4 linked regions of the Homo sapiens genome follow. The protein of the gene in region 3 interacts with the protein of the main gene of each other region in a biochemical or structural test. Each region holds a gene or a part of one and is shown on either strand. Other genes may lie near its edges.

Region 1 (7,034 bases), on a different chromosome or scaffold from region 3:
GCTCGGCTGCGATAATGCAAGGAACATGTTTTATTAGGAAAATAGGCTTCATAAAAGCTCAGGGCCAGAGGGCAGAACTGCGGGCAGGGCGTCCTGTCCCTTTAACCAGCTCCGGCCCTCAGGGCCACAGCACAGTCTGTAACTTACTGTATATTTCCCCAGTGTTAAACATTATTGTACTTGTTTATATTTGAAAGAGCCAAAAGGGAAAATGAGAATGCAACTGAATGCTCCTTTTGGGAAAATTATCTTCATTTGCAGCCAGCGGCTGACAAGGCACACGAACCACCAGGTTTATAAAATTCCGTAGTGTACCAGTGACCATCAGCCTGTGCTGACATCGCAGATGCTGCTTTCTTCTCTAATGGCTGATTATGAACTGGTTAAAACAATGTCTTTCCCACCAGGGCTCCGAAAGGGGTTCCCCTTCCTGTTTAGTCGGAGCGATCGGCAGTCACTACACAGGCTGGAACCTGAGAGGCACAAACTCAGGGCGGGGGTATTCTCTGTTGTTGCCTGGCTTGCCTGTTGGTCCTGTCCCTGTTCTTCTTGGAAGGTGAAATTATGGGTAAAGCAGTCCCTTTGCAGCAAGCACCCCCTCTCTAGCTCCACTCTACTGACCTTCAGCTTTTGTCTTTGGAAGGTGGTACGTGATGCGCTGTGAACCCTGGAAGCATTTTCATCCAGCCCACCAATCTGTTGAGAGCATGGTGCTATCAGGGCAACCCGGTGGCTCTTCAGACTTCCCAGTGGTGAGGCTGTGCCTGCCCTTGGCCAGCTCCACTGTGTGAAGAGGGTAAAGAGGGGAACAGCTGCAGTTTTAAATGGGGATAGTCCTCAACTCCTCAGCACAGAGAAGGGAAAAAAGAGTCCAGGGCTGTTTAGAAAAGTTCGGGCATTTTCCTTTGACTAGCTGTGGTAGGGCATGAAAAGTTTGAGGGGTGGCTGCAGTCAACTCATATGCCAGTATGGTGCAGGGCGGAGCTGTGCTTTAAAGCATTAATGTGCACCATCTATTAGCCCCTAGGCATGGAGTATGAGGCACCATCCTTTTGAAGATGCTGATCCTCAGAACCTCCTTGTACTTCATCTACCCCCAGGGGCAAATATACCATGCTGTGGGCCTCTAATGGAGAGCTGCCGACCAGATGTGGAAAAGCTCTCGGCTGTAGTTTAAAAGCTCTGTGTTGCGGCTCGCTTGGATGTTGGGATTCCTGGAACAGCAAGGGCTGGCCGAGTGGTCTTTTGCAGACTAACAGTGACCTCCCACCTGCTTTTCCCACTCTCAGCAGCTGGAGTGCCTTTGTACACACAGCTACTTCCTGAGCTGGCCCCGTGTGACCGCTCCTTTCATACTTGAGCGCCACATTTCATTCTGTTCTTTGGGTTGGATGGGGCTCTCTTCCTCCTCCCAAGAGTCAGTGTCCCAAATTGGCTCAGACCCGGTGGAAATATCCCAGCTGTGTCCCCACTGGAAATGCGGCCTTCATGGGTTTTCATTTGCCTTTTATTCTTCTGTGGGCAAATCCTCTCCACATGGCATAGCCACTGCAGATGGCGCCCTGCCACTTCCTGATGTCCCATGTATGGTGTGGTTTAGAGTGTCGGGAGGATTTCAAGAAGGGAAAAGAAAAACTAGCCAAAGGCGATACAGGCAGCGTGTGATAGGCTAGAATAATAATCATCTGAAAGTTTGGGCCTGGCCTTGTTTTGATCTGTTTTCTTGTTTTATTTTCTTCTTTACATTCTATATCCCATTCATACTAATCACAGTCAGTCCTGATTTTTCTTTTTATTTCTGCATTTGTCATAAAATAAAGCAAATTATTCCCGTCTTCAGAAACGATCTAGACTAATTAGTCGTCTCACCCAATAATTAGTTTTTTGTTTCCCTGTCTGTTTTCGTGCATTATTGTTAGTTTTTTCCCCTCTTTTTTTTTTAACACCATTACAGATTAAAATGAGCCACATTTGCAGTTGATGGTATCTGTTTTCGGGGGAAGAATGGAGAATTGCAGTACCGAGCGACTTCAAAAGCAGCAATAAACTCAAGGATAAATTAAGGAAATTGAATGAGCCACATTTGGAAGCAGTGTTGAGGCTAATATTCTGTCGCTTAAGGTTAAATTGCAACTGAGAGAGGTTCCGGAGAATCTGAAATCGGGGAGGCAACTTACTAGGATGCGAGGCATTCTGTGGCTGTAAAGGTCTTTGCTCAGTGAAGATTCTGTTGCAGCTATGGACACTGACAAAAGGTACTCACCTGCAATGATGTCCTCTTCTCCCCAGGGCTGACAGATGAAGAGATTGATATGGCCTTCCAGCAGTCGGGCACTGCTGCCGATGAGCCTTCGTCCTTGGGCCCAGCCACACAGGTGGTTCCTGTCCAGCCCCCTCACCTCATATCTCAGCCATACAGTAAGTCACCCGCTCAAACTCCTGCTTAACCTTGATTGGGATTCAGGACTCTGGCCAAAGGGCAGTGTTCTGTATCTCCCAGACTTAGCAAACCAGGAGAAACTGGGAGCAGCAGAAAGCTCTTGGGTTTTTCCCAAGGAATGTGACACACCCCAGTCTTCTAGACAAACTTTTTAAAGTATGTGACAAAGGTTTAAGAAGAGACAAGGGATCAGAATAAATGATTTTATTGTTGTTTCAGGTATTTTGGTTACATGCAGAAAACCTGTACAACTATTTATTGATTCTGTTCCCATCTCCTCATACCAGTGCTTTTGAATGTTACTGTTTCACTAAAAACAGCGTGACCATCTGACTCATGGGTGCATTCTTGTTTGCTCACTGCAATAACCTGTCTCCCACTTCTATTTTTTTAAGTTAATATTTGTAAGTTTAGGTCAGCCTCCATTTCCCTCCCTCCCTTGTCCTGGCTATACTTTGTACGTTTATGTAGTAGCGGTCTGTTAGGGAATTTCAGGTTAAAACATGAAGTTCCTTTTTGAATGTTTCTTTTAATTATACGAGATCATGACCCATGAGGGGTCTTTCGTTGTCTTAAATGAAAGCTACTATAGGAATAAAGTTTCTTCAAACAAGTTATAAATGCATACCTCCAAAATGCAGCCAGAAGCCCTCCTTGAAATCACTTATAAAAAGTTTAAAAAGGCTAAAATTGACTACAAAGTTATGGAAAATAGCTCCATTTTGTTTCTTTAATGAAACTCAGCATTGGGCCGGGCACGTTGGCTCACGCCTCTAATCCCTGCACTTTGGGAGGCTGAGGCGGGTGGATCACCTGAGGTCAGGAGTTCGAGACCAGCCCGGCCAACATGATGAAACCCTGTCTCTACTAAAAATACAAAAAATTAGCCAGATGTGGTGGCAGGCGCCTGTAATCCCTGCTACTCAGGAGGCTGAGGAAGGAGAATTGCTTGAACCCGGGAGGTGGAGGTTGCAGTGAGCCGAGATCGTGCCACTGCACTCCAGACTGGGCAACAAGAGCGAAACTCTGCCTCAAAAAAACAAACAGGCAGGGTGCAGTGGCTCACATCTGTAATCCCAACACTTTGAGAGGCCAAGGCAGGCGGATCACTTGAGGTCAGGAGTTCGAGACCAGCCTGGCCAACGTGGTGAAACCGTGTCTCTACTAAAAATACAAAAAATTAGCCGGGCGTGGTGGCACACGCCTGTAATCCCAGCTCCTTAGGGGGCTGAGGCAGGAGAATCACTTAAACCCAGGAGGTGGAAGTTGCAGTGAGCCGAGATCACGCCGCTGCACTCCAGCCTAGGTGACAGAGTGAGACTCTGTCTCAAAAAAAATAAAATAAAATAAAGAAACTCAATACTGGATCTGTGATCTCTCAAAATGCCTTTTCTATAATTGTTATTCTCAGAAGTTTTATTTTTGCAAAAAATGATTTAAAACTGTTAGATATCAGATTTTAAGGCCGGGCGCAGTGGCTCCCGCCTGTAATCCCAGCACTTTGGGAGGCCGAGGCGGGTGGATCATGAGGTCAGGAGTTCGAGACCACCCTGGGCAACAAGAGCAAAACTCCATCTCAAAAAAACAGACAGGCCGGGCGCGGTGGCTCACGCCTGTAATCCCAGCACTTTGGGAGGCCAAGGCGGGCGGATCACTTGAGGTCAGGAGTTGGAGACCAGCCTGGCCAATGTGGCAAAACCCTGTCTCTAATAAAAATACAAAAATTAGCTGGGCATGGTGGCGGGTGCTTGTAATCCCAGCTACTCAGGAGGCTGAGGCAGGAGAATCGCTTGAACCGAGGAGGTGGAGGTTGCAATGAGCTGAGATCATGCCATTGCACTCCAGCTTGGGTGACAAGAGCAAGACTCTGTCTCAAAAAAAAAAAAAAAAAAAAAAGTGTTAGATATCAGATTTTAAAAGGCATATTTTAAAATGACAGATTCGTTTTGATCCCCCAGCACCTGGTCTGAAGCTGCCTTCTTTCCCTCACCTCAGCACTGTTTTCATCCAGCTCAGCTGCAGCTAGGCAGGTGTGATCTTGGCAGTAGAGCCAAAAAGGCCTTCTCTTCTCCGGACTTGCTGAAGGGCCAGCCAGTGGGTTGGAATCTGCTGTCTGTGTTACGGATCTTATTTAGAGATCTCCTCCTTTGGCTGTCCACAGAAGGCTGAATGGGGGAGGCCAGGGAGTGTGTGCTCAAGTGTGTCAATCTGTCAGTGCCTTGCATGGGTGACCCACTGCAGGTTGCAGAGCTTCAGTGGTGAGCCTTGTCCTGTATTTGGGCTACTGGGTTAGCACCTGTGACTTGTCAGCTTGGGGCTCCTTTCTCCTTCCTGGCCAGCATTTTTTCCAATCCATTGTAGTTGCTTTGGGTCCTAAGCTGACTTTATGTGCTTCTTTTTAACCAAAGGCTGAGTCTCCACACTTTTTCTTTAGTTGTGTCCCTGGGCCCAGCCGTGTAATGGGATTTGTTGAGGATAGGCAGCGGCAGCTGGGGTGCAGAATTTTCTAAGATGCACATCTGTTCTGTTCCAGCTGTTTCCTCCAGTGGCTTAATACCGAACAGGTCTCTCGGCTACTTGGAAACTTCTTACTCAGAACAAATTGTTCTGGTTGATCACAGAGTTGGCCTAAAACATCATATGTTCACCTACTTTCCATAGACACAAAGGGTTAAACTGTTAGTCTTTCTGAAAGAGGCAAAAGAATGGGGTGGGGAGGGGCAATTCAGTTATTTAAATCATACTCATGTCCAGATCGCTCTGAGAAAAAGCAATACACGTTGAGGTATTTAGGTAGGAATATTTTTAAGAGCCTTCCAGCCCCTAAAAATAAAATACACATTCTTAGACACAGACTTCTTCCTGCTTTGACACTAGTGTAAAAACAATGGTAATGATAATTTTAAATACCTGAAGTTTTTAGTTGTCATCATTGAGCTTCATTCTTCTCATACCGTTACATTGCTCCTCTCACTCCGGGGGTGACTCTACCTCTTCACTTCTGTACTTTTGCCAAGAGGTGTCAAAACTGCTTAAAAAAAAAAAAAGCTTGATTTTGATTAATATAGAGAAACAAGACTTTGCCTGACTGATAATAAAACTGATAAATGACATTTGAATTACTTGTAGCGGTAATTTATTACATAAAATATCTTTTATTTGACATGCGATTAGTTGCTGGAAGCATCACTCAATCTGACTAGTTTAAACATGCTCCAAAATGAACCCCAGTAAAAACCAGGGCTGTCTGCTGCTGGCATTATGAAATATACTAATCCTGGAGTGAGGGAAAAATCTGACTTTAAATATTTAAATGATTAATTGGGTTTATATATTTTTTTACTTTTCTAACCCCCTTAATTACAAGCAAACTCAGGGGAGTTTCTGAACTAGGTGCACAATCTGCATGCTTATCACTGAGGCATTGTCTGCGTCGGGAGGGATTTATGGCCTCTATTCATGTGTGTTCCTGCCGATTTTACATCTAGATCCCCGGCAGCCTTTTCCTTCCCATTTCTTGGCTTTTTACGGACATTCCATCTCTGAGCCCAAGGCTAGAAAATGGGATCCCCTGGGCCTAGCCCCAAACACTCAGGTCTCAGGGTAGGGTAGCTTTTCCAAGACCACCCCAGGGAGCCCAGTGCTCTTCACCTTTGAACCTGCTGGCCCACCTGCTCAGTGGCAGGTGTGCCACTGAGTGCCTCTTTTGGCATCTCTGTTCTTTGGTGAATGTGGTTGACCTTGAGATGTTAGCAAATGCCAGTGTTGGCAGAGAGAACGTAGAGACCTGCCCAAATAGTAACAGTTCAATTTCTCAGTATTTTTATTAACCATCTACTATACGGTCAGTACTATATCATGCGAGAGATCCAAAACCTGATCTTTAAGCATCTTGCTAAGCTCTTTGGGAAAGATAAGATAAACTCTTAAGAAAAGGATAATAATATAAGATGTTGTGATTTAATGCCAAAATTAATTATACAGACAAGAAATTCTGAAATTCTGAAATATAGAAAAGAGAAGAATTAATGTGGGCTAGAGTCAGGGAAGGCTTTTGTGAAAGTGATAGGAGGTTGGCACCAAGGGGAAGCTTGGTGTCACCTGGTGTGAGCATAAACCAGTGCTCTCGGGGGCTAGAAGAAAGTTGGTACAGTTCAGGAGAAGTCAGGCTGTGATTCGAGAGAAGATTTGAAATTCTCCATTTCTCATTTTGGTTTCTTGTCTGGCTTTACATCGGGAGTCAGTGCATGTGTATAGGTGCAGGCCTAGCCCAGTCCTGAGCAGAGGTCTGATAAATGCTGGTTGATTGATTCACGCCAAGCTGATTTGTCTTCGTCCTCCCAGAGAGACCAAGAAGCTTTGAGATATAAGCAGGACCAGTGTAAATTTTGTAGGATAATAATTTCTTCTTAGATTTGAACATTTTCCCTCCACTGTCTTTGATAAACAATTTAAACCCCTTCAAAGACTGACCTAGAGCTTCAGTTGCTTCTTCTCAAAATAGGATGTCAGCATCTGAGGCCGGTGAAAGGTTTTGAACCATTTGATTAGAAATCCTGAGAGAGAGTGAGTTATTCCTCTGTTTATTTCTTTT
Region 2 (7,034 bases), on a different chromosome or scaffold from region 3:
AAGAATCAAAAACACTTAAATCTTACCAGCAAAATTCTAAGTCATGATCAGATGCAAATTATTTGTCACAAATGAAAATTAAATAATTACAATGGGGGGTTTAAGAAGAAAGACATATTATAGTAGATTTGAGATAAATGTATAGAAAGTATATTTATATTGAAAACAAGTGTGTTTTTGGACATCTCTGCATAATATAAAAACTAAGAAGGCAGAAAATGACGCTAGTCCAGTGATCAGCAAACTTTTTCTGCGAAGGGCCAGATAATAAATATTTCAGGCTTCGTGGATCTGCTGCAACTACTCACCTCTACTGTTGTAGTGCGAAAGCAGCCAGACATAAGTAAACAAATGAGCACGGCTGTCTTCCAATAACATTTTATTTATGGACACTAAAATTTGAATTTTATATAATTTTCACTTGTCACAAAGTATTACTCTTTTGATTTTCTCCAACCATTTAAAAATGTTAAAACCATCCTCAGCTAGTGGATCACTAAAAACATAAAGATTTATCCCACAAGCCAGTGTGCTGGCCCTTGCCCTAGACTATTACAGTTCAATAAAATAAATCCTTCTGCATTCAACCTCAACTATTGTTCATCATTAATACGTGTTTTAAGCCACTCTACAGAAAACAGAGATTACTGTCATCTATAATGCAGTTTCCTAATAAAAGTAATTCCTGCCTCTCAGAGCCATTGAGAACATCAAATGGGAATCTTCACCAACGCCTTACCAAAAAGCTTAAGATACTATCTGTAAATAGCTATTATCCTCACTGCTCTAGATACTTCCTTAAGATATGATGGCCTGTATATGACAGCCAGAAGTGATGCGAATGCTCTTCAGGTGTCTTCATTAGATAATACAACAACTCAATGCCACCATCTTGCAACCACAGGATTCTCTAAGTTTCCTCTCATCCATATTATCTACCCTCCTTGAAGTCTCATCAATTGCTGATCAAAGAGGAATTTTCCAAAATTAGAATATTTGCATAGATGATGGAAAAAGAGTACTCTGGGGGATCCCTCAACAACCCACAGAACACAGGATAAGCTTGGCTTCACTGTTACATCCTGAAAAGCCAAACCCAAGTCATTAATTTTATCTGATACACGGTCTGGTCTGCTCCAAAATCTCATAGGATCAAACTGCAGAAATGATCACTACAAAGAGTTTGTCCCATCACATACTTCTCTTTTATCATAATAGTATATTAATATCTGCCTGAGCTGCAATGTAAATTGTCTCTGAAAATATAAGGGCTATCAATAAACAAACAGTGCATTCAAAGAGATCCATGAATTTATGTAACAATCAAGAGTCAAGTCCTTTGTTTTTAAAAAGTTCTATTGACATGGAATTCAATATTAGCTTAAAGCCAGATACTGTCTAATTGCTTACTACATCACTTTTTGAGGAACATTAATGCAAGTATTTCTAGTCCTAATTTTGCAATATCCCAAAGTATCAATGATATCAAGTAGGGCTCAAGAATCTACAAACATACTTTTAAAGTTTTTAATTAAAAAATGTATTCTGGATATGACACCAAAAGCTCATATCCCAAAAATCATTGCAAAGACTAATGTCAAGAAACTTTCTCCCTATGTTTTCTTCTAGGCATTTTACGGTTTTGGGTACTGCATTTGGGTCTTTAAGCCATTTTGGATTAAGTTTTGTACATAGTGTGAGGTAACGGTTCAGTTTCACTCTTTTGCACATGGATATGCAGTTTCTCCAATACCATTTATCGAAAAGACTATCCTTTCCACATTTCTATTCTTGGAACCTGATCAAATGTGATTTTTTTTCTAAAAAAAAATTTGCTTTCTAATTTGTCACATTGTTCTATGTGTCTGAAAAAAAAAAATGTATTCTGGCCAGCATGTCATAAATACGAGAGTAATAAATGATAAAAGAAAATGCTGCTCATACAAAACTAGTATTATGTCTATATGTATGAAAAGCATGGACATTTTTACATAAATGTACAACTTTCCATTTATAAGTTGATGGGGCCTATGTGACTTATCAAATTGTTAATACAAAATAATAACAAAAGTGTTATCTATATTTCCTTCAGTTCTTCCTTATCAAAATTATATACAATGAACTCATAGTCTAGTGAAATACATGGCAAGGTCCCAGCTGTCTTTTCCCTTATATCACACAGGATAGTTAGAAAAATCCAGATCAGACTGGAATAATAAGCAAAATCATATTTTTCCTAATACTGTTCTTCACTGGCTCTCAAACTCTAGCCTTTTTCTGAACTGCATCTTCCCATCTTTGCATAGCTCCCTTATTACATCAAGATCCATCTCCAGCACCCTGGTTTGCATCTCAGGCCCTGGTTCCAGCCCCACAATACTTTCCCAACCAGATCTGAACTGAGAAAAAGACATCACTACTCACATCCCCAGTTCCTGTTTTGCCTTTTTTCAAAACCAAGTGATTCTTTCCCCTCTTCATGTTTCAACTCAGGAGCTCAGTTATTAAACACATCCCCAAATATCCTACAACCCACAGGTAGATTTGTTTTTCAGTAAGACCCCAGAAGTAACATATGCTTCTAAGTCAACAGCACATGCTATAGGCAAAATGCAATCATCTTTCATACTACTAAGAAATTTCCCTAATATTTAAGTTATCTAATATAAATTCTTTGAAAACCCTAAATTAGGGCAAGTGGCTACTACCTATAAAAGATAAGAACTTAAAATGAATATGTGAGTTTAAAAAGTAAACAGATATTAAGATGTGGAGGCAAAGGGATAGTCTGTCCACTAACACTCCCCACCAAAGGAGTCAGCAGTCTTCTCAAAAAGCTCCCAATCTGACCTCCAAGCAGAGCTACTTCCTCTGTGCTTTTAATGCAGCAAGCATGTGCAAACCTCCTTCACAGGTGTTATGTACTGGACTGTCGTTATTGACAAAGATAGTCTCATTAACATCTATATCCCAAGAATAAAGTTTATACTCAATCACTGAAGAGGAAGGGCAAGGGAATTATTCAGACTTCTTTTCGTGGAAAGGGACTCAAGAAAATACTTAAAAGCACCCTTCAAATTCAGGATTAAAGGAAAGACGTTAAAAAGAAGGAAGTTCTGGAACCTGAAAAACTAAGAGTTTTTACCTCACCTTATCATAGGTAGCTGACGTAAGGTCATCATAGTCAGAAAGCCAGGGGTGGGCCTCAGCATCCCGTTTTGCCATCTCCTCCAACTCTGCCTGCAACTTGTCCCAGAAATCGACATCAGACTGTAAGGAAGGGAAAGCAGATAGAAAAAGGAGATCCATCATGACCACCCCACCCCACACTCAGCTCTGCTGGGATTCTCTAAGGCAGCAGTTCTTGAATTTCAATATGTTTAAGAATCATCTGAATAAGTTTTTTAAAATGCAAATGGCCAGATGCTATCCCCAGATACTGATTTAGTAGTCTGGGGTGATGGCCAGAAATGTAATGTAGTGCAGTGCAGTGCAGTGCAGTGCAGTGCAGTGCAGTGCATAGTTTAGTTTAGTTTTTTGTTTGAGACAGAGTTTCACTCTCGTTGCCCAGGCTAGAGTGCAATGGCGTGATCTCATCTCGTTGCAACCTCCACCTCCCAGTTTCAAACATTTCTCCTGCCTCAGCCTCCCAAGTAGCTGGGATTACAGGCATGCGCCAACACACCACGCTAATTTTGTATTTTTAGTAGAGACATGGGGTTTCTCCATGTTGTTCAGACTGGTCTCGAACTCCTAACCTCAGGTGATCCACCCACCTCGGGCTCCCAAAGTGCTGAGATTACAGGCATGAGCCACCATGCCTGGCCCAGAAATCTGCATTTTTCAACAGCACCCACCCCATCCCCAAGCAACTCTGACACAGATGATCCAGGTCCACTATGAAATACAATTTGCATCATCTTTGATGTTCATACACCCACTCACTCCAAGGAGTGTTTTCTTTTGGGGTGTCTGCTCCTGCACTATCTGCTCTCACCTCTATAGCTGACTTGGCTCGTTCAAACTCCATATCAAGGGCAGATGTGTTTACTGGTCTTGTGAACTGGTCAACCCAGGCATCTGATGTACCCTGCGACAAAAAAGGATGGTCAGTACCACTACCACCAACTTTCTATCCATCAGACGCACACTAAATACCCACTAACCACCACCAACCTGGGTACTTCTGAGAAAATCATTCTCAGAATCTCTTTCCCACCCACTTGGGACCTGGATGCTATCAAGACAAGCTGGTCTTATCCTTCCCCATCTGGGACCACTGACCACTGAACCCATGGCCTGGGGCATCAGCTGGCTCTGAAGTGGGACTGGAAAGTGACAATGTCCTACCTGCTGCTGTATAAACTCTGCTGCCCACTGTTCTGCCTGAGCTCGGCCCGACCCTGCACCGGACTCCAGGGACACCTGCCCTTCGCCAATCTGCCGCACGAATTTCAGGAACTGGGGCACAGAGACACACACAGGCCACTTGGGAAAGGACTTCCAGGTGTGCACTCTCAACCATGCCCAAGAGGACCCTGTACTCACCCCTCCCCTGACCATCTCTAGCTGCAGACAAGATATGCTAAAGACCCTAAAAGAGGTAGAGAGCAAAAAGAAAGGGATTTCTGGCTCTAAAGACTTGCAAAGGCATCAGAAAAAAGAGTTAGTAGGCAAGGAGATGAGGGAATGAACACTAGAAGGAAGAGGCAGGATCTTAAGTCTCTGTTCTATAGACAGGAACGAAGAGACCTAAGATCTCTTCTCCTTCTCTTTAAACTAAACTGGGGTAAGAAAAGCAAGATTCTTGCCTTCCAAAACCAGCTCTGCTGGGCAAAGCAGCAGAGGGATGTGGCTCACCTCAGAATTAGCCAATTTGGGGTCATCCACTTTGGCCACAAAGTCACTGGCCGTGTGCTGCAGATCCTCCTCAGGATGATATTCATCATACCTGGAACGGGTAAGAACTAATTTTACACATTAGTCTGCCATCACCCTCCCCATGCTACTCCCCACTCCTAGCCCATGACAATGACAGTTCCTGTGAGGGAACTCCATTCTCCTGTTGAGAACCTACAAACTCCAATTTGCATTATAGAAGGACATTTGGGCAGGAGTGTGAAAGTACTAGCTACATCCTTCTAGCTCTCCCTTTCCCAAACATATCTTTGCATACAGATGGGATAGTAGCAGGCTCAAAATTAAGAAGGGAACAAGGTAAAATTATGAACTTTAAGATGAAGTTATGAACGTCATATAGGATAGTTAGGATTCTTGAAAAATATATATATATTTACCTATATACATATATTTTAAAAGTCTGAAAACTCCCTTCCTCCCAAATATAGCTGATATGTATATATACGTGTATGTGTGTATGTATATACATGTGTATGTGTATGTGTGTATACATGTATGTCTATGTGTGTGTATACATGTGTACGCATGTATCTACATGTTTACATATGTATACGTGTGTATATACATGTATGTGCACATGTATGTGTATGTATGCGTGTGTACATATGTGTATGTGTGTATATATGTGTGTGCGTGTGTGTGTGTGCACGCACACATGCATGCGCTTTTGGTTTTTTAAAGACAAGGTCTTACTGTGTTCCTCGGGCTAGACTTGACCTCCTGGGCCCAAGCAATCCTCCCACCTCAGCTTCCTGAGTACAGGCACACAACCACTGTGTCCTTGACTACATTTCAACCATAAATTCACAGGAGTAATAACCCAAGGGGAAATCTTAAAGAATAAAGTAAGCCCTCTCCCTCTCCCTCTCCCTCTCCCTACGGTCTCTCTCCCCCTCTCTTTCCACGGTCTCCCTCTGATGCCGAGCCGAAGCTGGACTGTACTGCTGCCATCTCGGCTCCCTGCAACCTCCCTGCCTGATTCTCCTGCTTCAGCCTGCCGAGTGCCTGCAATTGCAGGCACGCGCCGCCATGCCTGACTGGTTTTCGTATTTTTTTGGTGGAGACGGGGTTTCGCTGTGTTGGCCGGGCTGGTCTCCAGCTCCTAACCGCGAGTGATCCGCCAGCCTCGGCCTCCCGAGGTGCCGGGATTGCAGACGGAGTCTCGTTCACTCAGTGCTCAATGGTGCCCAGGCTGGAGTGCAGTGGCGTGATCTCGGCTCGCTACAACCTCCACCTCCCAGCCGCCTGCCTTGGCCTCCCAAAGTGCCGAGATTGCAGCCTCTGCCTGGCCGCCACCCCATCTGGGAAGTGAGGAGCGTCTCTGCCTGGCCGCCCATCGTCTGGGATGTGAGGAGCCCCTCTGCCTGGCTGCCCAGTCTGGAAAGTGAGGAGCGTCTCTGCCCGGCCGCCATCCCATCTAGGAAGTGAGGAGCGCCTCTTCCCAGCCGCCATCCCATCGAGGAAGTGAGGAGCGTCTCTGCCCGACCACCCATCGTCTGAGATGTGAGGAGCGCCTCTGCCCCGCCGCCCCGTCTGGGATGTGAGGAGCGCCTCTGCCTGGCCGCGACCCCGTCTGGGAGGTGAGGAGCGTCTCTGCCCGGCCGCCCCGTCTGAGAAGTGAGGAGACCCTCTGCCCGGCAGCCGCCCCGTCTGGGAAGTGAGGAGCGTCTCCGCCCGGCAGCCACCCCGTCCGGGAGGGAGGTGGGGGTCAGCCCCCCGCCCGGCCAGCCGCCCCGTCCGGGAGGGAGGTGCGGGTCAGCCCCCCGCCTGGCCAGCCGCCCCGTCCGGGAGGGAGGCGGGGGGTCAGCCCCCCGCCCGGCCAGCCGCCCCGTCCAGGAGGGAGGTGGGGGTCAGCCCCCCGCCCGGCCAGCCGCCCCGTCCGGGAGGGAGGTGGGGGTCAGCCCCCTGCCCGGCCAGCCGCCCCGTCCGGGAGGGAGGTGGGGGTCAGCCCCCCGCCCGGCCAGCCGCCCCGTCCAGAAGGTGAGGGGCGCCTCTGCCCGGCCGCCCCTACTGGGAAGTGAGGAGCCCCTCTGCCTGGCCACCACCCCGTCTGGGAGGTGTACCCAATAGCTCATTGAGAACGGGCCATGATGACAATGGCGGTTTTGTGGAAT
Region 3 (3,805 bases):
TTTTGTTGAAACTAATAAGGTTCCAGTTGCACCTGATTCCATTGGGAAAGATGGAGAAAAGCAAGATCTTTGATATCTTTCATGTTTGCCTGCAGTTGAACAATACTTTAGAGTACTTTTTAAAATTATTTCTCACAAAGAAATGAATGTACAATCCAATGAAAACATTTGTTATTGGCTATTTCAGGTGTTTTGCTGCTAGAAATTATTAAAGTTACACACTAGTATGTTGGTCTGGTGACCTGGTTACATTTTATTATACACATTATTGGACCATAAGGACATTTGTTTCACCTAGATTTTAAGATTATGGAGACTGCTGTCATTTTTATCTTATTTAAATCTCTAGGTTTATTGGAAGAGTAAGATTGATGAACTATAGCATGCACAGTTTGGTACAGTAGAGATCATTAATACTTTTAAAAGTTCTGCATTAATTGACTTGGAATCCTTAGAAATGGAGTGGTGACATGTCAGTATGAGAACAGGCAAAAGGTAAATTTTTTTTTTTTTTTACAACCTTAAGTAATCTCAATAATAAAATTTTCTGATCTGTATTATATCCAGTGTTGGGTTTATATTTTCACCCACAAACAACTGACACTGCTATCTTTTACTGTATTTTTAAAAATTTAATTTGAAAAGGTCACCCAGAAGCATTCTGAAGGAAATGGTTCTAGAATTATAGAGTATGTAGCCCTAATAGTTTTCCCTCCTAGCAAAAAGTCTGAAATTTATCTTTCTTACAAACTGTTCCATTTCTTCTAAGGATCCCTTAATTATTTATCTCTTTAAGCCAGGCATGGTGGCTCACGCCTGTAATCCCAGCACTTTGGGAGGCTGAGGCGGGCAGATCACCTGAGGTTGGGAGTTCAAGACCACCCTGACCAACATGGAGAAACCCCATCTTTACGAAAAATACAAAATTAGCTAGGTGTGGTGGCACATGCCTGTAATCCCAGCTACTCGGGAGGCTGAGGCAGGAGAATTGCTTGAACCCCAGGAGGCGGAGGTTACGCTGAGCCGGAGATCTCGCCATTGCACTTCAGCCTGGGCAACAAAAGCGAAACTCCATCTCAAAAAATAAAATTATTTATTTCTTTAAAATATGACTAGTTTTCATACTGGGTGAATCAGAAGTATATGAAAGGTATACTTTCTTTTCCTACAACAAATACTTGAGTTCTTTTGAGTTTGCACTTAATGATATAATCAGTTATAATAGTAATTTTTAATATTTTCATAGATTGTTTGCTTCTACCTTGTGTAATTTTTTAAATTCCATATTTAGGATGCTCTGTAAATATTGAAAATGTGTCACATTGGATACATTTTTCTTTTAGGTTTAGTTTTTACTACTGAGACTTATTTATAGTCTTAGTGCTCTATTGCCATTTAGAATATGATAATCCTCATGCCTTTAATCTCAGCACTTTGGGAGGCCAAGGCGGGCGGATCACCTGCGGTCAGGAGTTTGAGACCAGCCTGGCCAACACGGTGAAACCCTGTCTCTACTAAAAATACGAAAATTAGCTGGGTGCAGTGGCGTGCACCTGTAGTCCCAGCTACTCAGGAGGCTGAGGCAGGAGAATCACTTGAACCCGGGAGGCAGAGGTTGCAGGGAGCTGAGATCATGCCACTGCACTCCAGCCTAGGGGACAGAGCAAGACTCTGTCTCAAAACAAACAAACAAAAAATAATAATACGATAATGCTATTTGACGTGTTTTTTGGTTTATAATGATTTTAAATGCAGTTAACTTTCAGTACACTGAATATTTCCCCAGAAAATTGGAAACTTCATATACTTGGCTACGAACATACTACAGAGTAATACTATCAGGAATACAGGTGTATAAGAATACATTTATAGATATTGTTGAAAACTTTGAACTGTTTGATAAAAATTGTGATTTAGTATTTTTTCTTTTGTCTTTTTTTGAAACGGAGTCTCACTCTGTCGCCCAGGCTGGAGTCCAGTGGCGCGATCTCGGCTCACTGCAAGCTCCGCCTCCCGGGTTCACGCCATTCTCCTGCCTCAGCCTCCCGAGTAGCTGGGACTACAGGCGCCTGCCACCAGGCCCGGCTAATTTTTTTTGTATTTTTAGTAGAGACGGGGTTTCACCGTGTTACCCAGGATGGTCTCCATCTCCTGACCTCGTGATGAGCCCGCTTCGGTCTCCCAAAGTGTTGGGATTACAGGCGTGAGCCACCGCACCCAGCGATTTAGTATTTTTTTCTAATAGACTATGTTCAACAAATAAGTAATTCTCGAATAGTTCAGATTAAAACATACAGGAACCAAGTACATACCCAGCATAGAAGAACTTTACTAAAGGCTTCTTGGAAAGCCCTTTTTTGAAACGACAGTATCGTAAGTAACATATCATTTATAATAGAAATCTTGACCCAGTGCAGAAAAATAAATATAGTAAAATTTATTTATCTTTGGCCAGTTTTCCAACACCCAGGTATTAGCCTTGAAGTTGAAGAGATAAGGTTTCTTGTATATTATTTTTCATTTGTGTTCTACAATTAAAGGTTCTGCTTTGATTTGTCAGATAATTTATAGAAATTTTGTTCTCAAAACAAATGTTTGATAAAACAGATTATTAAATTTGGGGTTGAGATGTCTAAATTGAATGCTAGAAGTAAAGTAGAAGTGACCACTATTAAAGATGTATAGGGAGAAGAGTACAGCACAAAGTGATAAAATAGTGACACTTTTGTAGGGGTGTTTATTGTTTGGTTAAGTCTGCTAAATTACGGTATGCATTATCTGGTGACTATTTGTGCCTGAAAATTCGTTTTGTATTAAAATTCTGGAGAAGGAATTCAGGACTAGAATAAAGAGAAATTTTGTAACCTTTTTTATCATGACAGTTTTAGAATAATTTTTTTAGCTGAGATTAAATGTTCAAGGCTCCAATATTATTTTTAGGAACTTATTTAAGGAGTGCTACTTTACAGAAATTACTAACACACCAAAACATTATTAATTAAATAAAATATAAGTTTACAATAATAAAACATGTTTCTTTTAATTTTTCTGATTATATTTTATGAGTTCAGAAAGGAAATGGTAAAAGAACTATACATTTTCATGTTTTAACATTTTATGTACGTACTTGATTCTGTCTGTGTCATAATTACACATTTACTTGAACACAGCTATCCTTTATCTTGTGCTTTCTTTAATAGAAAAATGAACAGAAACTGAATGCAGTTAAATTTTTATTTTTAGTAGGTTGTGAAGTTACTTTTACTGGAGAAATAAAAATATGTTAAACTTGATTGACTTTTTAAGATAAATTGTTAACACTTTTGCAGGATTAGAATTAATATGAAGTATCTCTTTAACATTATTGTATATATTACCTACTGCAAACCTATCTGTTCTGTTTCTTTGTGATTTAAAGAAAAATAGGCCAGGCATTGTGGCTCACACCTATAATCCCAGCACTTTGGGAGGCCAAGGCGGGCGGATCACAAGGTCAGGAGTTCGAGACCAGCCTGACCAATATGATGAAACCCCGTCTCTACTAAAAATACAAAAATTAGCCAGGTGTGGCGGTGGGTGCCTGTAGTCCCAGCTACTTGGGAGGCTGAGGCAGGAGAATTGCTTGAACCTGGGAGGCAGAGATTGCAGTGAGCCGAGATCGCGCCACTGCACTCCAGTCTGTGCGACAGAGCGAGACTCCATCTAAAAAGAAAAAAACAAAAAAAAAAGAAAAATAATACATTTATATAGAATTACCTACAGGTGTGTTAAATAAAAACACTTCATACCTAGATTTTGGGGGATC
Region 4 (7,985 bases), on a different chromosome or scaffold from region 3:
ATACTCTGCATGATGGGGAGGATGTTCCCTTCCCCATCCCCTTCGTCCATGCCTAGCCCCTCCATGGCCTTGGTCAGCTCTTCTTCCGACATGCTGGAGTTCTAGATAGGACAAGTAAGAGGTGAGCAGGTATACTACCTTCTTGGGATGCTCACCACTCTCTCAGGTGACAAAGATAAACTATCTAAACTTGCCTGTAACAAACAATAAGACAGCAACAGACTTGGGATGATACTCAAAGCATCTGTCTTTTGAGACTCTGCTGGAGAAATGTCTGGGAGTGGACCCCTTGTGGGCCCCTACTACTTTCTCCTCACCTGAAGGTCAGTGGCATTTTTGGCTAATCCACTTAGTGTTTCCTTTAGGCAAGAAGTGAATTCTTGTTGGGAGGTCATATCACTGCCTAGGAGAGATTAAAAAAGCCAGCGTCATTTAGGAGTTTGTTTCCTTGCCTAGACTGAACTGGTTAACAGCTTGGATATGAAGCATTTACTAGTGAATCATTATCACTCCCAATCTTGGAAAACCCTATGGTTATCTTCATAGTCTTTTCATAAATCTATTTAGTACACGGACTCTGCATCAGTTTATTCTCCATGATGATACCCACAATAACACTGTGACCTTTCAAATGGTCAGTTTTGAATAATGTTTTCTATTACTTTCCAACCTATCTCACCCCTTTTCATTAACAGGGATTCCCATCCTTTCTCTCATTGCCTTTACCCGTTCCTTGGCTGTGACATCATGATTGCTATCAACTTCACTAAGAATTCTGGTGTTTTCAGGCAACAAAGACTTAAGAGTCTGTTCAGATATTTCCATGTATCTGGGGTCTCCTCACCCACTCTCCCTGCAGCCTCTGAGAGCTTTTGGAACTGCTCCACCAGGTGGGGTTCTTCCTCAGCCAACTCCTTCATTGCCTTCTCGAACTCCGCAGTGGCTTGGGAAGCCAGTTCACTGTCGAATAGTTCCTGGAAAAACTTCTCTTGGGAAGCGAAGAGGGCATCCTGCGGGGGAAGGATGGCTGAAATGCGTCTCTTACTTAGGACTACACTGCACCTGGCCTCTGATAGAAGCCACAGGCAGTGGCTATGGGAAATGCACCTCCCTCCTACCCAATTCCACTGGACATTCTAACTACTGCTCCTAATGAGGATAGCAAAAAAGGTATCTAGTCATTGAAGGAGGGTATGGGATGGCATACCAATCCAACCATTTAAACCTACTATTTTTTCAAGGAACTCTGAGATTCCCCCACTCAACCTCAAGTCCTTATTTCACAAGGACTGAGGCTGGCAAGAGCACTCACCAATGTGAGGCCAAGGTACCCTCCCACATTCCCCTCTGGCCCATAGGGGCCTGCCCAACCTCTGCTCAGGGCTGCATGCCCATCCCCTCCCCATCCCTTAAGGGGGTGGAATTTATACTTTGGCAGTGTCTCCTGGCGATCTCTTCTGGGGCCCCGAAGCATCAGGGGCCGTGGTGGTAGAAGGGGGTGCTGGGGAGGGTTTGGCTTTATCGAAATCATCAAGAGCACCTTCAGAGACAAGAGACATGGTGTGTGTGTTGGCGACAGATGAGAATGCAAGCAAGGCTGGGTGGTTTCTGGGCAAAGCATTAGGAATATGATTTTTCAAATTGCCAACTTTCCTCAATTTTCCTCCTTGAGTCCCCCACCTCCCCAGACCACCCTCAATGAGCCTCCTACTTCCTTCTGGATTACCTAATTTATTGTGAGCAAAGGCAAAGAAATCCCTTAAGGTGGAACAAATGTCCATCTCAGAGCTGGGAGGAGAGGATTAAAAAGTTCTGCAGAGACATCTCCATCTATAGTGTCTCCCTTGCCACACCCTAACGATTCCCTAGAAATCCCATACAAATACCCAACAGTAGTAGAGAACACAGATGTCCTCATCCCTCTGAACTCACTCTGGAGCTCTAAAAGGAATAACTTGGTGAGAAAGCACAGGACATCCCACCCAGCTTCCTGTTGGTACTGGTACCAGCACAGACTGAGGGACTACATACCAGACTCCATGGTACGGCATTAAACTATCTTCTCTTATTCTCCAGTTTAGTGCTCCCCAACAACCTTCTAGAGCTCCCTTTGGCCTGATCTCTGCAGATAACCGTACACTAATTTACACAGTCACTTGGCACTCCTCAGGGTTTCTGTTCATTTTTCTGCCTGCCCACATCTCCGTGATTGAGCAAGCGATTACAAATTCACCTCTGCCCTGAAAAGCCTGTGTCCTCACCACCATTCTGTTCGCCAGGCCTAGGGAGAGAGCACTGGCCCTACTCTGGGCAGGAAGTCAACAGGGGAGTGGAGAGTAATGCTAAGAAAACATCCCCCGTCTTTCAGGAGGGTGAACTGCTTTCCCCTGAAATCGCCACATCCTCAGTTTCTCAAAATAAGGGAAAGGAGTCCGCTTGAGCTACTGACAAGATGAAAGAACTGTTAAGGGGCCTAACGAGAGAAAGAGAAAAGGACTAGGAGGAGAAAAGTGTCTTTCGTGTTAAGGAAGACAGGACGAGGCACACAAGGACCGGCCACGAGCTTGCTAGGAGTTAATGTAAGCAATCAGTGAGTGCGTAGTTCGCTACCCAGCAAGAACCAAATGCTGCTGCTGCTGCTACTGCTGCTGAAGTCGAACTTTAAGAACTCAGTAACCTAAAGAGGAGTTTGAAGAGGTATCATGAAACGCCGTCCTGCGGAAACATCCACCATCCGGACCACTGAGGGACCCCAGGTGAGCTCCCCAGCTCCAGTCGCCGGGGTGGGGCAGGATGACCCAGAGATTTTTGGGGGGCTCGGGGGTCAGACTCTCCGCCCCCATTTAACCTTTGGAGAGCCTCTCCTGCCCGTCCCTAATATCTCAGGTTCACTTAACCCCCAGAATGGGTCCTCACACGTGCCCTCTTCGGGCCTTTCCCACTATGGGCTCTTACTTTCCAGAAGCTCCTCCAATTCCCTGTCCGCTTCGGCCCCGACACTACAGCCTTCCTCAGCGGCGGCCATCTTGCTACCTCCGACTTGCCGTAGGAGGCGGGACCTCCTCGGTGCCGACACGCCCTCCACCCCTTCGCTCCCGCCCTCTTCTGCCTCGGGTAACCAATGGTATTGTTGACCAGTGCGGAACCGCCATTTTTAAAGGGCCAGGAAGCTTTGAGTGTTTGTGTTTTGGGTATTTTTCCCTTTTCTCCTGTGAAACAGAATTAGGGATAAGATAGGGTTATTTTCTGTCTGGTTTTAGAGGCCCGGACTCCTTTCTTTCAACTTCCCAAATTACCTGGCGAAGCTCTTTCATTATTTTTTCCTGAGCTGTGAGTAGGCCAGATTGAGACAAACTGCCTACAAATAACCAGAATCTAAACATATATAATTGATATGACAATTATGGCACATAACATACTACTTTCTCTCACTTCATTTTTTTTTTTTTATTTTTTTTTGAGAAGGAATCTTGCTCTGTCGCCTACGCTGGAATGCAGTGGCGCCATCTCGGCTCACTGCAGCCTTGGCCTCCCGGGTTCAAGCGATTCTTCCTGCCTCAGCCTCCCGTGTAGCTGGGATGACAGGCGCGCGACACCACGTCCGACTAATTTTTGTAGAGACGGGGTTTTAACATGTTGGCCAGGCTGGTTGGCCAGGCTGGTCTCGAACTCCGGACCTCAGCTGATCCGCCCACCTCGGCCTCCCGAAGTGCTGGGATTACAGGCGTGAGCCACTGCGCCCGGCTTCACTTCATTGTTTCCCTCAAATATTATCTTTTCTGAAACGCTTTCCTTGGCCATTCCCGTTCCTTTTCTTCCTAACACTGAACAGTATCTGACATACTATCTACCGTACTTTTTTATTCTCCGCTCCCCACCCTGCAGAATTTAAACACCATGAACGCAAAGATTTTCGTCTGTTGTCTTCACTGCTGTAAAGCCCAACTCCCAGGCTAGGGTTTAAAACTTAGTAGGCATTCATTGGCCACTCTTTGCTCTCGCAGTCCCTAATCAGGCACATCTGTCTGCCCAATCTAGTGGCATCTCTCATTTCCTATTATCTATTAGAACTGTTTGATTAAAGGACACAGGGCCGGCCAGGAACTTAGAACTCCATGTTATTAAGAGAGCCTCTGGTACCTTGGACTGAGCAGGGCAATTCGAATGCAGTAGTAATAGACTTACTTTCCCTGAACAATCTCCTTTTCTCCACACAGAACCCAACCTCCAACTGAGTGAACACGGGGAATGCTCAGATAGAGGTAACTCTAGACGTCCCTTTCCTCCTTTGGAATTGTTCTATTCAGATGTCAGAATGTAGCAACTGTTTCACATACAAATCTGTTTTCGCACTTAGAGAGCACCTATTATTAAGGTCTTGTTCTGGGCACAGTGAGGACAGAGAGATAAATCAGGACCACCCCCTGCTGTAAGGTAGCTAAGTGGGGGTGAGCCGGAGGTATGATGAGATATACACACAGTATGATACAAGGTAAGAATTTTAAATGAAAAAAAATCCTGTGTTAAGTCACCTCATCACTTTCATTCTTAGCTTCCTAAACACACATTTGAGTACTGCATCAAGCACCAGATCAAGCACTTACTATGTCCTTCACAGATAGGGCACAGACTTGTAAAATCATATCTGCAAAACCTGTTTTCTTCCAACCACAAGTAGTGTGTTTTGGGATCAAAATATTATGAACTGTGAGTTAGAAAGCCTAAATTCCAGCCCCAATTCTGCCACTAATCACTTTTGAAGTCCTTTACAATTCTAAACTTCTGTAATCAAATCCTTTCCTGATAAACCTGTTTTCCAACACCTGCAACATAATTTATTCCAGACTTTCTCATTCAAACTGCTTACACGTGTATCTCCAATATGGCTATAGTTGTAACAAGCACGTCAAAAAAAGAAAACTTGTCTATCAACAGGCATCTCTATTGGTTTTATTTTTTGAGACAGAGTTTCACTGTTGCCCAGGCTGGAGTGCAGTGGTGCAATTTTGGCTCACTGCAGCCTCCACCTCCCGGGTTCAAGTGATTCTCCTGTCTCAGCCACCTGAGTAGCTGGGTCTGCAGGCTCGCGCCACCATGCCCAACTAATTTTTGTATTTTTAGTAGAGACAGTGTTTCACCATATTGGCCAGGCTGGTCTTTAACTCCTGACCTCAAGTGATATGCCCACCTTGGCCTCCCAAAGTACTGGGATTATAGATGTGAGCCACTACACTTGGTCAATTGGCTTTAAACTAATGTAATATAAGCATGTTAATTAAAAGATAATAGATGATAATTAAAATGGAGTCAAAAACAAGCATGATTCTTTCTTTGCATTATTTCTTAAACTTCTTTCTGCTTTTCTATTTTTACTCCTAATATTCCTAACATCTCATCTCAGTATTTACTGACCTACTGACTGCTCCTTCTGCCCTTCTAATGTATAGCGAATACTGTTGAATAACAGTATTTTATAACGCTTTCATATCACTCTGTTCCTTAAGGATTTAATGGTTCTCCACAGTTTATCGAACAAATTCTAATTCTTGCCTGGGAGTCACAATTATTTCACATCTTGTATTTTTAGTAGAGACAGGGTTTCACCATGTTAGCCAGGATGGTCTCGATCTCCTGACCTCGTGTTCCGCCTGCCTTGGCCTCCCAAAGTGCTGGGATTACAGGCGTGAGCCACCACGCCCGGCCTTTTTTTTTTTTTAAGACAAAGTCTTGCTCTTGTCCCCTAGGCTGGAGTGCAATGGTGTGATCTCAGTTCACTGCAACCTCCGCCTCCCGGGTTCAAGCAATTCTCCTGCCTCAGCCTCCTGAGTAGCTGGGATTACAGGTGCCTGCCACCCTACCCAGCTAATTTTTGTATTTTTCGTAGAAACAGGGTTTCACCGTGTTGGCCAGGCTGTTCTCGAACTCCTGACCTCAGGTGATCTGCCTGCCTTGGCCTCCCAAAGTGGTGGGATTACAGGCGTGAGCCACCACTCCCGGCTAATATGTACATTTTTTTTTTTTTTGAGACGAAGTCTCGCTCTTGTACCCCAGGGTGGAGTGCAATGGCACAATCTCATTAGTAGTATGTACTCTGTTGAGAAGGCAGCCTTAGTTTAGGGATGCTGTTTAAAAAAGCAACTCTTAAGATAAAGCTAAAAAATACAACGTATAGTATGAAGAGAAGTAAAAAACAAAGTGAAGCTCCCTAATATATTGATACGAGAAAATACCAAAAATGTTAAATGAAAAAACAAAGGTACAAAATTGTTAAATAGTGTGGTTTCATTTGTGTATAAAAGGAGATAGAGAATGGCATAGTGATATCAGCATGTGCATGTATATGTGTGTGTGTGTATATATATATATATATAAAATTTCTGGAAGGATGTAAGAAAGCTGGTAACAGTGGTTACCTGTTTAGGGGAAGGTGATAGGAACTGGGTGGCTGATGAAAGGGTGGAAAGATTTGTCACAGAATAGCTTTTTATATTTACTGATTTTTCAACTATATGCATTTATTATTTATTGAAAACATGAATTTAACACGCAAAAAAGTACTTATTTTAATCGAAGGCACAGTAATGTCACTCTACCCAATTATTCTTAGCATATGACAAGCAAAATATTGTATTGTTAATGTAATCATTGTATCATTGTAATATATATAAAGTACTATTCTTTTATCTGTATATTACATGTAAAATATCTAGAACAGTGACAGTCACATGGCAGGTGCTCAATAAATATTGCTATAATTAGCAAAAGATAAAAGGCTGCAATCAAAAACAGAATAAGGGAGCTACTTGCTTTCTATCATTTTCACAGCAGTTTAGGTCCTCATATATACCCTATGAAAAACATGTGCTTCTTTTTTTCTTTCTTTTTTTTTGAGATGGAGTCTCACTCTGTCGCCCAGGCTGGAGTGCGGTGGCGCGATCTCAGCTTACTGCAACCTCCGCCTCCCGGGTTCAAGCAATCCTCTGCCTCAGCCTCCAGAGTAGCTGGGATTACAGGCACCCACCACCATGCCCGGCTAGCTTTTTTTTTTTTTTTCCAATAGTGGATGTTTATTTTGTAATTAAAAATTATTACTGGAAGGAAGATATGTACTTTGGTGGGGTGCCTGCATGGGTGAACAAGAACATGAGAGTGTCCAAGAAATAAATGGCCAAGTCAAGAAGCTCTCATAGAGATTTATTTAGTGTGAGAAATATGAGAACAATAGTTGTAAAGAACAAATCAATAACCCGCAGTGTGCATTTTGGAAAACCAAATAACTTCTTCAAATTTCTGAGTACACAGAGGGTACCTGCCTTGAAATTTAAATGTCTAAGGAAAATGGGAGATGATTAAGAGTTGGTGTGGCCTAGTCACACCAAAATGTATTTATTACATCCTGCTCCTTTCTAGTTGACAGGAAAGAAAGCTGCTGTGGGGAAAGGAGGGATAAATACTGAAGGGATTTACTAAACAAATGTCCATCACAGAGTTTTCCTTTTTTTTTTTTTTGAGACAGAGTCTTGCTCTGTCACCCAGGCTGGAATGAAGTGGTATGATCTCAGTTGAATGCAACCTCCACCTCCTAGGTTCAAGCGATTCTCATGCCTCAGCCTCCTGAGCAGCTGGGACTATAGGCGCATGCTACCATGCCAGGCTAATTTTTATATTTTTATTAGAGACGGGGTGTTGCCATGTTGGCCAGGCAGGTCTCGAACTCCTGGCCTCAGATGATCTGCCCACCGTAGCCTCCCAAAGTGCTGGGATTACAGGTATGAGCCACTCCACCCAGCCCAGAGTTTTCATTTGTTCCTTAAAATAATTAAGCTGGAAAGGCAAGGACAATTATGAGCACAACTGTAGTCAAGTTGAGAAGACCTCAAAAAAGTCAAGTTTAGACCTTCGGATTTTCCATAGAAGAGAAAAAGATACTAGGTTTTAGGGTACAGAGAGCCAGATCTGAAGAGTAGCTGCAGGGGGAAGGTGCT

The links.
Region 1: the proteins of PEX13 (region 3) and PEX14 form a complex in vitro, tested with the Homo sapiens proteins (one study listed by BioGRID).
Region 2: the proteins of PEX13 (region 3) and PEX5 form a complex in vitro, tested with the Homo sapiens proteins (3 studies listed by BioGRID).
Region 4: the proteins of PEX13 (region 3) and PEX19 form a complex in vitro, tested with the Homo sapiens proteins (2 studies listed by BioGRID and IntAct, with this or other methods).

The regions. Positions count from the first base shown.
Region 1 is NC_000001.11:10,596,949-10,603,982, forward strand, and holds part of PEX14 (peroxisomal membrane protein PEX14), read left to right. Parts: intron 1-2,289; coding exon 2,290-2,418; intron 2,419-7,034. UniProt on the Homo sapiens protein: Component of the PEX13-PEX14 docking complex, a translocon channel that specifically mediates the import of peroxisomal cargo proteins bound to PEX5 receptor.
Region 2 is NC_000012.12:7,199,668-7,206,701, reverse strand, and holds part of PEX5 (peroxisomal biogenesis factor 5), read right to left. Parts: intron 4,952-7,034; coding exon 4,861-4,951; intron 4,462-4,860; coding exon 4,351-4,461; intron 4,091-4,350; coding exon 3,998-4,090; intron 3,271-3,997; coding exon 3,151-3,270; intron 1-3,150.
Region 3 is NC_000002.12:61,048,698-61,052,502, forward strand, and holds the end of PEX13 (peroxisome biogenesis factor 13), read left to right. Parts: coding exon 1-73; 3' UTR 74-3,293; downstream 3,294-3,805. UniProt on the Homo sapiens protein: Component of the PEX13-PEX14 docking complex, a translocon channel that specifically mediates the import of peroxisomal cargo proteins bound to PEX5 receptor.
Region 4 is NC_000001.11:160,282,100-160,290,084, forward strand, and holds the start of PEX19 (peroxisomal biogenesis factor 19), read right to left. Parts: upstream 3,035-7,985; 5' UTR 3,026-3,034; coding exon 2,956-3,025; intron 2,757-2,955; exon of another isoform or gene 2,266-2,756; intron 1,541-2,265; coding exon 1,431-1,540; intron 1,011-1,430; coding exon 845-1,010; intron 404-844; coding exon 318-403; intron 102-317; coding exon 1-101. UniProt on the Homo sapiens protein: Necessary for early peroxisomal biogenesis. Acts both as a cytosolic chaperone and as an import receptor for peroxisomal membrane proteins (PMPs).